Linked DNA regions of Homo sapiens: region 2 is linked to region 1. Evidence: fine-mapped expression QTL. Tissue or cell type: whole blood. Region 1 holds a variant in brackets; the other region holds the start of a gene. All regions are shown on one strand. Distances are between the middles of the regions.

Region 1 (2,500 bases):
TCAATGAGGTGAAATAAAGTTTCTCAACGCACTTGTCAAACAAATGCATTATATTTTTGTAATTTATTTATTTTTCAGAAATTGCTTCATAAATCTTCATTCACTCAGAGAATATCTGATTAATGTTTTAATCTTAAAGGTTAAGTATTAACCTACAATCTTTGTAGAAAGCATTGCTCAAGTGGAAAGTCATGCACTTTAAGATTTATCTTACTGTCTGTGTAGGCACCATTTATTTTTCATAATTAGCTTTTTGTCCTTAAAATGTAGCTTAAATGCATAGTTCATAGTTCAGCAAGTGGTTCATAATTTACTTTAAATATACTTGAAAATAGAAACAAAATGTAATTTATTATCATGATTTATATCCTCTTCTAATTGCTCCTAAACCAGTATTTTAATTCCTGTTGATTTTACTGGGTTGCTTTGCAGCAGAAACAAGAGTATTATTTTATGTAATTTGTGTGATTATATTTCCTTCTGAAATGTTTTTGAAGAAATAATTCTTCTATATATTCAGCCTCAGCATAAAAGTGATACAAACTTCCCCCTTGACATCATTGCCAAAAACAAAAACCTCCCTCTGGTTTCAGCACTGGAAATAGTCCCTGCTGCCACCCTTCCTGGGAGGGAGGGGTGCAAAGGAAGTGACCTACTTTCACTCATCATCACTGAGGCTAACCCTGAAGAGGGCTGTTTCTGCCCGTCTTTTCCTGTCATCTTGGCAGCTATCACCCCTGTTTCAACCAGGATGCATAAAATTAATGAAGCAGGAGCCTATCACCCAGAGAGAATTTAGCTAGCAACTAGCAGTCTGTGGACAAAGTGCCAATGACAGTTCCTAGCAGCAACAAGTACTATTTGTGAGTATGGAAGCATCTGTAAATTAGGAATGAAAGAAAAAAAAATGAAACAAGCAGCATTTATTTGCAATCAAGAAACTAGATATCTTTAATTGTGTGTGTGTGTCTGTGTGTGTGTTTAAAGAAAGGCATGTGC[A/G]TATTACTTACTATAATAGGAGAACATATCATTGCCAAGACAGATTTACATCAAGTGCCTAAACCCCCCAGTTCACTACAGGCAACCTTTTTTTAGCAACTGGAAAATGACAGCTGCTCTGTCATACAAGGCTATTAAATCCACTTATCTAGGTGAGCATAATCTCTGATGTACTTATATTGCTTTGCTTTATGTACTATACTCCCTATACATGTTAGACAATAGTTTCTGAACCATCTATAATTTAAAACCCTACATTTTATTTAACAAACATCTGTTTAGCAACTACCATGTGCTGGGTACAAGGCTAGACATTGGATATAAATAGATGCATTTTCCCATCCTTGCCCTCAGCACCTCACATCTTTCTTTAATGCAAGTGAGGATGGTTGCTTGTATTCTTGGGAGAATTCCATTTGAATAGTAAAAATCACCAAGGAGAGAAATACCTGACAGAAAGTATGATTTCCTGTCTAAAATCTGTATTAATCTGATTCAGAAGATGGCAACATGCATATGCAGTGTAATGAATGGCATATTTTATCTCCAGCTCAAGTTTTTCCACAGTTGATACCATATTTTTCTAGCCAGAATTTAGATTAGGGTTTTCCAGGAATATTTAAGATTTATAATTTCATTGTATTTATGTAAGCCAAAAGAACACCTTAGATAGATCTAAAATATGAGGGAAACATTTTTTGTTTGAGATGTGCCTGTTGAAGTAGAAGAGAGGGAAGATAAGGGTCAGGGTAAGGAGGAGATACTGGTTGCATTAAAAATCTTGTAATCAAAACCATTCTGTAAGTGATTTGTGTGATCAGCTTATGCACATCATCTAAATAAGACCAGAATTTAAAAACTAAATCAACATTTCCCAAATTGTAGATGTTCCTGGAATAAAGAATTCTGTGATCACATGAGTTTGGGAAGCATCCATTTGCATGTTAAAAGTTCTGGCATGTCCTACAGTGTGTAATTAAGAAATCTGTTCAATTTGTTTAGCTCAGCATTTCCTAAACTTATGTGGCCATAAACCCTCTGCTTTAACTATATAGCAAGAATATATCTCAGACTACAGCTCAGGTGGGACAAGAGTTATAACTTTATAGTCTTTATCACAATTTAATTTCTATTTTGAGACCCCTTTCTCTATATGTGGGAACTGTGAGGTCTTAGAAACATAATCTGAGCCCATTTCAAGTTGTTTTCTTCTCCTCTCTCCCAGCTAGAATCAAAGTTCTATTAAGCTTACCTAGTACCAAAGGCCTTATATGCAAGGGTAGAGGGGAGGGTATAATGTCTGTGTGTATATGTTGAGCAAGGGGACATGTGATAGGGCCAGCCAGTACTGAGTATTTCACCCAAGCATGTTTCTGCTGACCTATCCCTTTTTCTCCGTCCTCCTAATTACCTTTCCTTTCAGGTCTAGAAAGTCTCTCAACTACTTTCATTCCATTCTTAGAGGCACAGGAATCATTCAGCTTCTTTCATTCCATGCTAA
Region 2 (2,610 bases), 400 kb before region 1:
ATATTAACAGAACTAAAAGACATGAATAATATTAAAGAATGGGCTTTGGCTAGTGATTTTCAATCAATTCTCTTCAAAGCAATACTCTCTTAATTTTACTGAAAGAAAATTCAACTTTAATATAATATTTAGATAAATCAATACATCTTAACTATAAAAAAGAAAACTATCTATATAAGACAATATGTATTTCAACATATAAATGCTTGGGTAAAACTTCCTTAGGAGGCAAAATAAAATAAAAGTTTGCACCTATTCTTAGATGACCCCAGTGTAATCGATGGGATGTTGATATTGTGCTGGTGACTCAAGTACCATGGGCAAGGTTGTTATCAGTGATGTGCTTCTCTGAAAGTACATCTTTACACCCATTGACAAATGGGTGTAAAATCCAAAAACACAAAGTAAATTATCTTCTCAATGTATATAGTAGATGCATCCTAGAAAAAAACAAACAAACAAACAAAAAACACACACAAAAATTTGATGTGGAAACAAACTTAAATTAGGTTTCAAATATAAGGCAAGGTTTTGTTGTTTTGTTTGTTTGTTTACTCACTACATAAATGACCAGTGGCCCATTCAGAAGTCTAAGGACAAAATATGTTGTAGGACTGTCCTGACCACTGAGGGACAGCTCACACCCTGACCCAACAGTACACTAATGCCTGCAGTACCCACCGTTCCCGGAGTAAACCAAAAGACATCCTGCGACTCACAAAATCCATTATGGAGTTGTTTTAAACCTTATGAGAACCACTGACCTAGGCCATAAAAAACAAATGAAAAAACAACAAAAACTAGGAATGGCAGTAGTTCTGTTGAGTTAAAGAGGAGAAAGAGGAGAAACCAGGACTGGAAGAGATGAAATTGTGAGTCTGGAAGGAAACTATTGCAAAGGCCTTTATTACCTTTAAGTAAATGTCTCCTAACTGAACTGAAAGCCTTCATTCTAACCATTAGTTTGGTCAGGAACATTTCAGGGACGCCAGGGTGGCTGTTTTATTTTGCACTTCCTTTACTGCCCTCCCAGCAGCCTACCTAGCAGTAAGTTCCCCAGCCTGCAGTGTCCCCAGAGGGCACCTTCCCTCGGCTAGTAACTTCTCAGACACTCTGGCCTTGGGGATGTCTTGGATCTTCTAGGTACACAGTGGCTGCACACAGTTTTGCCAGGCCTTTCTCAAGAGGTAAAAGTTCCTAGCTGTTTGCATTTCCCAGAAATAATGTTTTCCATGTGTAGGGATTTTACAGATTTCAAAGTGCTTTCATGTCAATTACTTTCTTTAATTTAAAAGAAGTTCAGATACCAGGTCAAGCTAGGAATGATCCGGTCTCAGAGGGAAGGAGCGCTCTAGGAAAGGAGGATCCTTTAATAGAGGGCCGTCCTGGGGCCGCGTGCCCATGGAAGGCGAGAGTGGAGGAGTGTCCTCTTTCTCCCCCACCCTCAGGCGGCGGCCCGGCCAAAGCCAGAGGGGGCTGTCTCCTCCTCTTCCCCAGCAGCTGCTGCTCGCTCAGCTCACAAGCCAAGGCCAGGGGACAGGGCGGCAGCGACTCCTCTGGCTCCCGAGAAGTGGATCCGGTCGCGGCCACTACGATGCCGGGAGCCGCCGGGGTCCTCCTCCTTCTGCTGCTCTCCGGAGGCCTCGGGGGCGTACAGGCGCAGCGGCCGCAGCAGCAGCGGCAGTCACAGGCACATCAGCAAAGAGGTACAGTCGAGGCATGGGCTTGGGTTGCATCCTTTGCCGGGACCGAGATTCCTCACTTCTTCCACTCTTCCGAGAGTTGCTGTCTGTGGACTGCCGTCTTGCTTCGCCTTCAGAGAGTGCGCTCTGGGGCAAGAGGAACTTGAAGCAAGTTCAAGTTCAATGCCATGAGAGCGTAGTGTAGGGGGAATTACCTAAGTCCTGCAAAAGGAACGGGGAGTGCTTTTCATTGTTCTTTAGTTTCGAAGAGGTCTTGCTATCACGATACATCCCGTAAATTGATTTCTGAAATCTTTCCAAGAGGAAAACTTTTTCCAATTGGAAAAAAAAGAATTTCTTCAAATCAGAGCCCATCCTGCAGAGAAAGGCTTCCCAAGCTGTGTGGTTCATCCTGGGACTTTATGGAGGGTAGCTGATGCATCAAAAAAAAATTATATATATATATATACACACACACACACACACACACACACACACACACATATATATATATATAAAGTTTTACAGAACTTTGTTTTCAACTTTTAAAACAGGATTTCTAAAGAAGTTATGTGGTTTTTTTTCTTTCATGGCAATGGCGCCTCCAGCCTCACCTTTTTCAAACCCACATCTTATCTTCATATCCTATTTTATTGTAGTGAAATCGTGAAATTTCTCCTTTTGCTTAAATACAGAGGAGACTTCTATGTCATGTGTACTTTAAGGCCACAGTGACTAGATATACACTTTGGAGGACTTTGGAAGATGGCTGTATTTAATGTAACTTAAATAACTTATTCTCCTCAGAGCCTCTTAGTGTTTATGTATATATAGCTCTCATTTCTGAAACTTTGGGGAGTCTTTGAAGAGTTATTTTATTATCATGAATTTTACAGGAAGCACATGTGCAGCATTGTAAGACATACTT

The links. PIP is the estimated chance that this variant, and not a neighbour inherited with it, causes the effect.
Region 2: LAMA2 starts here. The variant in region 1 is fine-mapped to the expression of LAMA2 in whole blood (TOPMed, PIP above 0.99). The same link has a PIP of 0.9 or more in blood mononuclear cells.

The regions. Positions count from the first base shown.
Region 1 is chr6:129,280,254-129,282,753 of GRCh38, forward strand. All of the region lies in intron 18 of LAMA2 (laminin subunit alpha 2), which reads left to right. Among named protein-coding and RNA genes, the nearest start is that of LAMA2, 400 kb to the left of the region's middle. The variant A/G (reference allele first, on the strand shown) is at 1,000.
Region 2 is chr6:128,881,652-128,884,261 of GRCh38, forward strand. It overlaps LAMA2 (laminin subunit alpha 2), which reads left to right and starts at 1,487. Exons shown (of 65, transcript NM_000426.4): 1 at 1,487-1,706. The coding sequence starts at 1,595.